3 linked regions of the Homo sapiens genome follow. The protein of the gene in region 2 purifies or fractionates together with the protein of the main gene of each other region. This does not show direct contact. Each region holds a gene or a part of one and is shown on either strand. Other genes may lie near its edges. The genes, in order: ACADM, INKA2 and TBX20.

Region 1 (3,722 bases), about 36 Mb from region 2:
AGAGCATAAGATCAAATCTCTTTTTTTTTTTTTTTTTTTTTTTTTTTGAGACGGAGTCTCGCTCTGTCGCCCAGACTGGAGTGCAGTGGCGCAATCTAGGCTCACTGCAAGCTCCGCCTCCCGGGTTCACGCCATTCTCCTGTCTCAGCCTCCTGAGCAGCTGGGACTACAGGTGCCTGCCACCGCGCCCGGCTAATTTTTTTTTTTGTATTTTTAGTAGAGACGGGGTTTCACCAGGATCTCGATCTTCTGACCTCGTGATCCGCCCACCTCGGCCTCCCAAAGTGCTGGGATTACAGGCCCGAGCCACTGCGCCCAGCCAAATCTCTCTTTTTATTGATAAACTAATGCAGAGTAAGGAAATTCTAGTATCAGTCTCACAATGAATTAGCAGAAGTATACTTAAGAATTTCAGTCCAGTGTTCTCTCTATCACAGCTTTACTTCTAAGATTGGTGCCAGTTGATAGCAATCTTGCAGGTAGATAGAGGGTAGAGAAAGTCTGGGCACGGTAGCTCATGCCTATAATTCTAGAATTTTGGGAGGCTGAGGCAGGTGAACCATTTGAGGCCAGGAGTTTGGGGCCAGCCTGAGCAATATAGCAAGATCCTGTCTCAACAAAACATTTAAAAATTTAAAAAATCAGCTAGGTGTGGTTGACATGGACCTATTGTCCTAACTGCTCAGGAAGCTGAGGCGAGAGAATCCATGGAGCCCCAGAGGTCAAGGTTGCATCCAGCTTGGGTGACAGAGTGAAACCCTGTCTCTTAAAAAAAAAAAAAAGGAAAAATGACAAGTATGTATTATGTATTATTTATTGAGAAACTACTTTGATCCAGTCACTAAGTGCTAGGGGCTTTAAATACAGCATATAATTTAATCTTCATAGAAATTCTGTGTTATAGATATTATTTCCACTTTACAGATAAAGAACCAGATGCAACTGGTTCAAGGAATAGACCCGTATTGAACTTCACAATCTCCCTCCCAAACAATTATATCTAACTCATCCTCTGTCACTCAGTGAACCACCATAGATTTCTCCTGCAAGTCTCTTACTACTGAGAGAGAAATTTAAAGTGACAAGCAATCATACCAAATTAATGCTAATTATCTCAGTATGATCCACTACCCTGGCTGGGCATGCTGGCTAATGCCCATAATCCCACTTTGGGAGGACAAGACGGGTGGATCACTTGAGGCCAGGAGTTCGAGACCAGCGTTGCCAACATGGCGAAACCTCATATCTACTAATAATATAAAAATTAGCCAGGTATGGTGGCCCACACCTGTAATCTCAGCTACTTGGGTGGCTGAGGCAGGAGAATCGCTTGAACCCAGGAGGCAGAGGTTGCAATGAGCCCAGATGGAGCTACTGCAATCCAGCCTGAGCAACAGAGCAAGACTCAGTCTCAAAAAAAAAAAAAAAAAAAAAAAAAAATCCACCATCCCAAATGGCTATCCTCACAGTGCTTGAAAACTTTCATTTAGTCTTTGGCTACAGAAAGAGAAAAGAAAAAAAATTTTCATTTAGGTTGGGCACAGTGGTTCATGCCTGTAATCCCAGCACTTTGGGAGGCAGAGGTGGGTGGATCACTTGTCTTCAGCTGTTCGAGACCAGCCTGGCCAACGTGGCAAAACCCCATCCCTACTAAAAATATAGAAATTAGCCAGGCATGATGACCCACACCTGTAGTCCCAGCTACTCAGGAGGCTGGGGCAGGAGAATCGCTTGATCCTGGGAGGTAGAGGTTGCAGTGAGCCACTTGCACACCAGCCTGGGTGACAGAGTGAGACTCTGTCTCAAAAAAAAGAAAAGAGAAAATTTTCATCCAGTCTTTGGCTAGAAGTCACAGGAAAAAAAAAAAAAACACAGAAACTTTTCATTTGGTCTGGGTGCAGTAGCTCATGCCTATAATCCCAGCACTTTGGGAGGCTGAAATAAGAGGACTGCTTGAGCCTAGGAGTTCAAGATCGGCCTGGGCAACATAATGAGACAATGAAACCTCATCTTAAAAAAAAAAAAAAAAAGAAAAAAGAAAGAAAGAAAAAGAAAAGAAAAATTTCATTAAATTCTGGTAAGAAAAAAAAAAACCTTTATAAAGAAAAGGGAAAAATCTTTAAAAAACACAACAAATAATAAAAAAAATAACTCTGGAGAGCTTTGAGATTGTCATTTGTACCTAGCTGTGAGTTATCGCAGCTGCCTTTAACTATTTTCTGAGACCAAATAAATTGAGTAAATGGTTTTTAACTAGAGAAAAAATAAAAATTTTGAAGAAGCACTTTAGAAGGCCAAGAATGCCAAAGATAGATATTATTTCAAATTTTTTGTGTGTAGTTTTCATTTTATAGAGGGCAGAGGAAAAAAAATCATGGCTCCCTGGTCCCAGGAGTGAGAACTTCATCTAATAGTACCAAAATTGCAATTTGGATATATTATAGCAAAAACAAGCTTTAGCTTATTACCAGGCACCTAGAATTGTAATCTAACAAGTGTTTTTAAAATGTATTTGTGGCATTCAGATATGTAAGTTGAAGACTATTCATATATATCAGTAAATCTCATTTATTTTGGGCTAAACACTCAGAAAAAAAGGAAGGAATTTAAGTGTATGTATGCTGCTAAAACAGATCTAATGTACAGTGTAGTATACTGAGGAAGAAAATGAGATCAGGAAGAATGGAGTGTGAGTTATTGTAAATTATCTGTGGACAGTGGACTGGTTCTACTCATTGAAAGACATTATTAAGTTTATTTACAAACATATTCCAAACAAAACATATAAAGCTTCATATGTATAAGTTTAAAGTCAAAAGATAGAACCGAACATATACCAAAACTAAATCCTAATCCTGGTTCACGTTGTCGATTGGCTTTTGTATGCTGTGATCTCCAATGAAAACGAGAAATACTTCTCAGGACCTGTAAAGAACACTTTTATTAAAATAAATTTGATAAGTTAAACATTAATCAGATAAGAGACTACTGATAATCATAAGTGAGTACAGCAACTGGTTTGACCATACTCATAGTTTTTAAAGTCATCACTATTTAAATGCCTTCAATCATAATTTAAATAAGCCAATTATCAGTTATATAAATTCCTATTACAGAGGAGATGTTTTTAAAAAGTAATGAAAATAAAGTCAGTGGTATTTATACTACTGAAGTGGAGGGTTTAGGACAAACAACAGTCAAGGGTAGTAGTAGATGTAGGACCACTATTCTGGGTATCTTACAAGCTCCTAGGACATTAATGGTTGGAGAGTTGGGGTGGGGAGAACGATAGGCTGGAAGTGAACATACTGTGTTCAAGAGTTGCCTAGTCCATCAACTTTGATACCCTGTCACTGTGAGCCTCCCATGCATGCCTCTGGAAACCTTCCCCTCAGAGGATCTCATTTTTTAGGATACCCCACTCTAACAAAACAAATTAGCATAAAACCATGTTCTGTATTTTCTGCTGTCTACAGGGATTCTTACAATGTTCTGAGCAAGGAGTCACCAAACCAGTGCAGCCACATCATGCTGTCTATTGCCGCTTTCACAGCAGATCTAAGTAGTTACCACAGAGACCATCTGGTTCACAAAGCCAAAAACATGTACTATCCGTTCCTTTACAAACACGTTTGCCATCCCTCTTCTAAACTACTAATACACTACTTGTCTTAGGATCTGAAATATAGTCATATTTCTTCAAAGGAACATATAAAGAAACA
Region 2 (4,243 bases):
CTTGACCAGTATTACAGGAGGCCATGCCTGTGTAAACACAAACTAAGGGCAGCGCCAGGCAACACAATGTCTTCCTGGGTGGCAAGGGAGATCCTGCCTGGGATGGGCCATCTGCAGTGCAAAAGCTCCCTAGCTCATGACAGAAACCAACTGTATTCCTTTCCCACCCCATTGCAGACCTAGGGTATTAAGTCAACACACTTCTATCCCAGCCACAAGCAAGCTGCACTGAATTCAGTCCCTACTGTCCCTGGGCAAGGCAGCCAAAGGGCTAACCCTGGACTAACTCAGCTCTACTTTCCCCTTTGCTACTGTTGGGGATACTAAGGCACTGAGATTTGGCCCAGCTACCTAAGCACTGAACTGAGGTGTCAGGGAGTGAGTGACACTCTACTAGCTCTGTCTGTCCTTCTGCTCTGTCTCGTCTCTGAGCAGGCTGGCATTGGGGAGGGGGTGGAGCACCATGGGGGGTAGTGCAGAGCTCTCCCATCTGAGTGTCATTCTGGGATCCAGGCCAGGCATTCGGCTTCCTCTCCAAGAGAGTCAAAGGCTGAAGCTGCTCAGACAAAGGGCCAAATGAAAGCTAATGGGGCACTCCGTGACTTCAGCTTCTCCCTTTCCTCCTCTCAGGCATTGGGGGCTCAAGTCCTTGGCAGGAGAGGGTGCAAATCAAGATGTGAAGCTCAGCTCAGTGCAGATTCCTATTTGCCTTTTTTATTCTCCTGGCACTCGTAGTCTCTGTCTTCCTCCCCTCACCACCTCCCACCTAGACTGCTATAAAAAATGCAAATCAGTAGGATTTAAAAATTCGAGCCCATGCCAGGAACACCCACAAACCCTCCATTAAGGCAGAACCTGAGGTGGGTGGTGTAGTCCCCAATTCGAAGCACAAAAAGGAGGATTCCATTAGATTCTTTTCTCTGCATGGGTCTTGGACCTCAGACATTATCTGTGATGACCTTGAGCTTTCTTTCTGGTACTGCACACATAAATGGAAAAAAATGAGAATTGTGTACGTGTGGGCTGGGGCCAGCCATCCCAATCTGGCATGAGAAGCATGTGCAAACGACTATGGGAAGGGACATGGCGTAAGTTCAGAAGAAAAGCAATGAATACTCCTGTCTCTCAAGAAATTTATCTCTGAGTCAGTGACTTTTGCATCTGAGTGTCACCACAGAAAGGGCTCCAGGAGGGAGGACTAGAGAGAGAAATGATCGTTGATGTGAGCAGGCTGACCCTGGAGTAGGACTGACAGGAAGAGTGGCAGGGTTACTTGGTCAGGAAGCATCAGTGAGAACACCTGCAGTTTCAAACTCTGCCCCCTACCCCCAGAGCTGGCCCCTAACACACTGCCAAGTTCCTTCCCAAGCAGGAAGAGTGTAGCCTTTGCAGGCAGCAGTGGGAAACGCTGTCACAGAATCTGGAGAGCCATAAGCTGGCCCTTTCTAGATCCAGGCCTGCTGTTGTGTGGCCTGAGTGCCCCTGGCTCTGTAAAGTAAGAAGAAAGAGGAGAGCAGAAAAGTGAGACTGAGAAGAGTCGACTCCAAGAGAGACAAACTAAAAGAGACAAAAAGAGACGAGGGCAAAGACACAACAGAGAGCCTAGTGGAAGGAGAGATGGGCAAAGCAGAGATGGGGCTGTATGTGCATAACATTTGCCTGAATTCCGGTGGGTGAAGGAATAAGAAAGGTGGCAGGTGGCGTGGGGGCGGGGGCAGTGGTATATGAAGCCAGTGAGAATCAACCTGGCTCTCCCTAACATAGCTTTAGCGAACACCACTCCCCCGACTTCGGTGATTTCCACCCCCCCAGACTGAGCTACTTCTCCCCCTCCCCGTACCGCGGGGCCTCCGAACGCTCCCTGCGCACTCCCCAAGCCCAGACCTGACATCTGGCTGGGCCTCCGCAGCTCCCGCTCTCGATTTGCCAGGCAGAGCCCCTCCTCCAGCGCAGGGCCCTCCCCCGCCTTTCCAGCTGCCAGCCCCCTCCCTGCTGGCAGACAAGCCCAGGCAGACAGCCGGCCAAGCCTGCCCCCGCAGCCGCGCCAGCTCTGCCAAGCCCGGCAGAGCTGGGGGCCCAGGGTGGTACCCGCTTCCCTCGAGCGAGCAGTCCCGCTGACCTCGTGCCCGCGCAGGGATCAGGACCCAGCACCCTCCTCCTCCCCGCGCTCCAGGTCGCCCCGCGCAGCCCCGCACCCAGGCGCCCGCGTCCCGCTCCCCAGGCCTTCGCTCTCGCGCTTTCCGCGTCGGCGGCGCGGGGGCCCCACTGCGTCCGTGTGCCTGGCCGTCTCTGGGCGTGCCCTATCTTCTCTCTGGGGTTCTCTGTGTCACATTTCAGCCTGGCTGGCTTGCTCCCTCTGTCTCTCTGTCACTTGTTCTTGTCTCATCACAAATCTTTGCTCAAAGTTTCTTCGTGGTCCCCTTTCCTGAGGACAAGCCCTGCCCTCTGCCTGCGGGCCCGCGTCCTCTCCTCTCTTCCCTGGCCCTCCTCCGCCCTGCTTACGTCCCGGCTCCCCGGGGGCCGGGGCGGAGACCAGGTGCCCGTCGGGGCGGAGCAGCCCTCCCTGCCCCGGCGCCAGCTTCGCTCTTACCAGCTCCTGTTTGAGGCGACGGAGATAGCAGTCCATTTCCCTGCTCTCCATCGTCATGCGCCCATTTGTCGGGTTCGGTTCAAACAGAGAGGGCCCGGGTGAAACCCCGGCCCCACTGGAAACTGCGCTCCGGGCCGGCTCCCCGCCCCTGCGCCCGTAGCGCTCGCAGCGCGGAGCTGAGCCTGCGCTCCGAGCCCGGGACTCAGAGTCGCTTCCCCAGCGGCTAGCCGCGCGCGGTCGGTGCTGGGGGTGGAGGGAAAAGTGGGACAGCCAATGAGAATTCAGGGGGGCTGTCTTCAGCCAATGGGCAGGGCGGCCGGGAGGCCGGGCTGGGCGGCCGAGGCGGACCCTACCGCAGTGTTTGCACAGGACCCGGGCGCAGCCACTGGGGCTGGCGAGGACACACCTGGTCCCGGCCAGCGCGGCGGAGGGCATCGTGACTCCAGGCTGTACCGCGGCCCCCAACGAAGCACGTGACCCTCGTGTGGTCATAAAGGGAGAGCACAGTTTTACGGGGAGGGACTGGGTAGCGGTCTCAGTAACAGGCAGAGTGCCATAGTGTCAGTCCCTTTTCCCAAACTCCGATCAGGAAGGGAAACACCCCCACCCACTCCGCTCCCATCCCCAGAAGTCCCTCAGAAGCTCTTTTCTCCCCGAAGAGGACCCTGGGAAGGTGGCTCCCGCCTCACTCCTAGAGTGAAATCCTCGCAGCCCTGCCCTCGCGGGCGGAGCAGAGACGCCGCCGCTTGGCCGGTTCACGCCTGTCACACAAAGCCGCCGAGGGTCGGCTGCGCCCCTGGCAAGGCTGTAGGGCTGGGGATACTGAGTATGACAGGCGAGGTCCCTGCTCTCAAGAACTTACATGGGAGAGAAGGGGAGACAAGATAAACAGGTAAACACACACACACACACGGTAAGCACGGTAATTTCAGACAATGATTTTTATGAAAACATGAAACGGGGTAAGGGGGTCGGGCTGCTTTCCCTGGGGCCTTCAGTGGGGTGGGCAGGGAACAAGCCTTTCTCTCCCCAGAGCTCGGCGTCAGTCAACCTAGCTGACGCTCTCGCCTTTGGCGAAGCGCTCTAAGGCCGGGACGCTCCTTTGTTATTCAAAAGGAGCCGGGCGAGCGCCAGCCAGGCCCTGGAGGATGGAGTTGCGGCCAATAGGCTCGATAGGCCGATGGGCTCCGCAGACCGGTGGGGGGTGCTCCTCCCAGCCCAGCCCTGGACGCCGGGCTCCGCGCCCGCCAGCGCTGCTCCCTCCCAGCGCGGAGACGCCGCGCCCGGCCGGGACAGCCGGGGACGGTGGCGGAGAGCACGGAGAGTAATTAAGCAATTAGCGACGTGTTGTTAAAAGGTAATTAACGGGGAAAAGTTTGCCCCAGGCAGGATTAGAGGTCTCTGAGTGGGACAACTGTAAGAACACCAGAGAAGGCACGAACGGTGCCGGCGCCGCCATCGGTCCGTCCGTGGCAGCCAAAAGTGCCAGATATGCTAACTATTGAAAGATGCGCGGGTGGCGCACGCCTGTAATCCCAGCACTTTGAGAGGCCGAGACGGGTGGATCACTTGAGTTCAGGAGTTCGAGACCAGCCTGACCAACATGGAGAAACCCCGTCTCCACTAAAAATACAAAATTAGCTGGGCGTGGTG
Region 3 (3,722 bases), on a different chromosome or scaffold from region 2:
GAAATAAACCTTGCCAAAGGAGCAACTTGTGTTGAAATGTGCATATTAGTATCTTCAGCTATTTTCATTACCCATATTTTCAAAGTCAGTTTTTGATGACACTGTCAGTGGTCACTTCCTTGGCCTTGCAATCTATCATGATGCCACCAAAAAGGAGGAATTAAAACCCAGAAGATCAAAAACCTCGTACTGGTTCTGTCACTTACCAGATTTGTGACCTTGGGTGAATGTCTTAACCATTCTGACCTCAGTTTCTAATTCTACAAAATGGGACTCGTGGGGCCTTCTTCAAGGCATACAGTGTCAGAATTAAATGAGGTGTTTAGAAAAAAATGTGGAAAGATTTTTCTAAATTAAAAGTAATAAATCCAAACCATGAATTTTAGCTGGATCCTAGTTCAGAGGGGGTTTAGGGGCAGTTGGTCTATCCTGAAAATTTTAATATAAACTGAATACTAGGTGATATAAAGAACAAATTCTTATAAATTTTCTTAGCTGTGATAAAGATGTTGGGATTACAAAAATAGTGTTCTCATTGTCAGAATATGCTTAAAGAGTGTTTAGAAGTGTCAGGAGGCATGCAACTTAGTTTCAAAAGGGGAGGGAAGAAACTGGGAAGGAAGAGGGGAAGTACGTTTGCATATAGAGAGAGGAAGAGGGAGGAAAGAGAAAATTTGGGGGAAAGCAAATTTGGCATTGCTGAATCTGGGTGGAAGGCATGTGAGGTTCATTTTACTATTTGTTTCGTTTTTTGTATATCTGAAATTTGTTCTAAATAAAAAATCAAGTAGAAAAACAAGAATTAAATTAGAAAATGTCATTAAAGATGTGGTTCCAGTTGGATACAGCGAGTACTAGCAGATATTCTGACCTCCTGTTAAGGATGATCATCATCGTGTTACACTTGCTGATGTGTGGTGTGAGCAGCACATTTGTTTAAAAAAAAAATGAGCATAAAGAGCTGATGCTCTCTAAAATCAATGTCTCAGAGTCTATCAGGGCCAAGAGCTGAGAGAGGGTGAAGTTCTGCTTCTTTGGGAACAGCAGGCACTCACAGCTTAGGGGTTAAGGGCACTCCCTCTTGAATCTTAACCACCTGAATTCAAATCTGCAATGGGAGGAGCAAGGTCACTTCAGATGACTTATTTAACTAGTGCCTCAATTACCCCAACTGTACGATGCTGAATAAAAATACGATTGTTCCTATCTCATGATATCATTGAGAAGATCAAGTATGATTATGAATTCAAGTGGTGTCTTGCACATAGTAAGTACCCAAATGTTAGTTGTTATTTGTATTATGTAAATAAGACCCTCCTATGATATGAGAGGTCCCGCCAACACTTACGCAGTCTTGGTCTCTCACCTATTAAACCAAATCTCAGGCATTATACTTTAAAGTTTACTAGAAACTTTAATTTTTGTTCATCTCTATAATTTTCACTAAAAAAAATAAAGAGGAAAACAATTTACCTCCTCCTGCTTTGGCCCTCTTTAAAAAGAATTATGATAAAAGCAATGAGGTTTCCACATGAGAAGTGTCTATGCCATTCCCAAACATCAATAAGGTTTCTTAAGTGAGCATAAATTTAAATTGTTATAATATATTAGCATGGTGTACATTATAAAAGCTATGAAATCAATTAGTATAAATGAATGGAATGTTTTCGGAATCTTTTTGGAGCCTATGATATTTGCATTCCACGTGCCCTCAAATAAATTAAAAACAGGATTGCTGGTTTCAGTGTTCCAGATTCGCAGAGAAACAGCATTAGTGCTTTAGGCCTTTGTAGGCTTCCATCTAAACCCCAACTTTTAGTTTGGGCATTCTCTGAATGTTTCCACTCCTGTGTTATGATCTTGGAGATAATTCAAAGGTTACAGTACTTGCCTTTACTGTAAGATGATCGGCATGATAACAATTACGCATTAATTTCTCTATCTCATTAATACACCACTAAAATTTTAAAATACAAATGGTGACAAATTCTTTTTTTGACATTTCTGAGACAGCCCCATCATAACCACATGTCTTATTTACAGAGCACCTTACAGCTTCCAAAGGCTTAAACAAGCCTACACACACAACTACATTTGATCTTCACAGCAATCCCCTAAAATGGTCTGGTCAGTTCTTGGCCCTAATATCTAGGTAAGGAAAACAGCAGCCACTGGTGAAATGAAATCTACTCAAAGTTGTATAGAAATCCTAGGAGAGTAAGCCTTACATACATCCACTCTGGCCATCTGCCCACATCCCTTTTCCAGGCTTCTACTACCTCATTTGTGTGAGGCTGGCTGTGATGTCAGCTTCATCTTGCCTTTCCCGAGGGTCTCCACACCACCTCGCTTTCAGGTGACCATCCTCCCCGGGACTCTGAGCCATCTACCAGGCAGCATCTAATAGCTACTCACTCAGAACCCAAAACCTAACAACATCAAGACAAGAGGAGAGCAATAGTCTTGGCTACCTATGACCAATGAAACAAACACAAGATACAAAGACACAGAGAGGTCATAAACAACTGAATGTGTCAAGTAAACTGAGCATGTGACTTCCTTTTATATTGAAGTGTATGAAAAGGAATTCTATTTCTGGTCCGTTCTGATGGAGAGAAGTTACTCACCCTCTCTTAGCTTCAGCTTCCTCACCTGTGGAGTGTAGTACTGCCACAGCCCCTTAAGCTTACGCTGGGCACAAAAGAAGAAAATGTATGGGAAGTGTCTATCAGTACATGGCCCTTAGTATGGCCTTGATAAATATTTACTAAGTTGGAATAAGCCCTATGGATGAAGAAATGCATTAATTTAAGTTTTTTTTTTTAATTTTATTATTTTTTTGAGGTGGGGTCTCGCTTTGTCACCCAGGCTGGAGTGCAGTGGTGAGATCTCTGCTCACTGCAACCCCCGCCTCCCAGGTTCAAGCGATTCTCCTGCCTCAGCCTCCCGAGTAGCTGGGACTACAGGCACCTGCCACCAGGCCCAGCTAATTTTTGTATTTTTAGTAGAGACGGTTTCACCATGTTGGCCAGGCTGGTCTCGAACTCCTGACCTCAGGTGATCCACCCACCCTGGCCTCCCGAAGTGCTGGGATTACAGGCATGTGCCACCGCACCTGGCCAAAAATGCATTAATTTTAAATGTGATGTACAACAGAGAGTAAAAAGCATAGGTTGAGTATCCCTTATCTGAAATGCTTGGAACCAAAAGTATTTTGGATCTCGGATTTTCTCAGATTTGGGAATTTTGCATTATGCTTACAGGTTAAGCATCCTTAATCCACAAATCTAAAATCTGAAATGCTCCAGTGAGCATTTCCTTTGAGTGTCATGTCAATGTTCAAAAACGTTTCAGATTTTGGAGCATTCAGATTTTGGGTTTTTGGATTAGGGATACTCACCCTGCATATAACTCAATAATATAAATTAGATATCTTGATGTTACATACTATGGTTTACTATCTAAAAAGACATTTAAAATCATTTTACCAGAATTATCTCACCCTAAATTATAGCTGAATAAACCTTACAAAATATCTAAAGTATCAGCAGTTTGGGCAGTTGGATAGAATAGGTGTGTTTAATTGAGCAGAGAAACTGAACTTTTAAATTTTATGAAGCAACAAGAACATGGTTATACATGTTACCAGGAGGAGGAAAAGGAGGCAAGTAACTTTCTGGAGAAGAAAATGTGAGAAGGCAGATTGGGGTAGGTGTGGGTGG

What was found.
Region 1: the proteins of INKA2 (region 2) and ACADM purify together in Homo sapiens (affinity purification with mass spectrometry, with the first as the bait; one large-scale study listed by BioGRID). This does not show direct contact.
Region 3: the proteins of INKA2 (region 2) and TBX20 purify together in Homo sapiens (affinity purification with mass spectrometry; one large-scale study listed by BioGRID and IntAct). This does not show direct contact.

What each region holds. Positions count from the first base shown.
Region 1 is NC_000001.11:75,727,604-75,731,325, reverse strand, and holds part of ACADM (medium-chain specific acyl-CoA dehydrogenase, mitochondrial isoform a precursor), read right to left. Parts: intron 2,938-3,722; coding exon of another isoform or gene 2,926-2,937; coding exon 2,838-2,925; intron 1-2,837. UniProt on the Homo sapiens protein: Medium-chain specific acyl-CoA dehydrogenase is one of the acyl-CoA dehydrogenases that catalyze the first step of mitochondrial fatty acid beta-oxidation, an aerobic process breaking down fatty acids into acetyl-CoA and allowing the production of energy from fats.
Region 2 is NC_000001.11:111,736,596-111,740,838, forward strand, and holds the start of INKA2 (PAK4-inhibitor INKA2), read right to left. Parts: upstream 2,801-4,243; 5' UTR 2,648-2,800; coding exon 2,591-2,647; intron 980-2,590; exon of another isoform or gene 856-979; intron 1-855. UniProt on the Homo sapiens protein: Inhibitor of the serine/threonine-protein kinase PAK4. Acts by binding PAK4 in a substrate-like manner, inhibiting the protein kinase activity.
Region 3 is NC_000007.14:35,236,929-35,240,650, forward strand, and holds part of TBX20 (T-box transcription factor TBX20), read right to left. Parts: intron 1-3,722. UniProt on the Homo sapiens protein: Acts as a transcriptional activator and repressor required for cardiac development and may have key roles in the maintenance of functional and structural phenotypes in adult heart.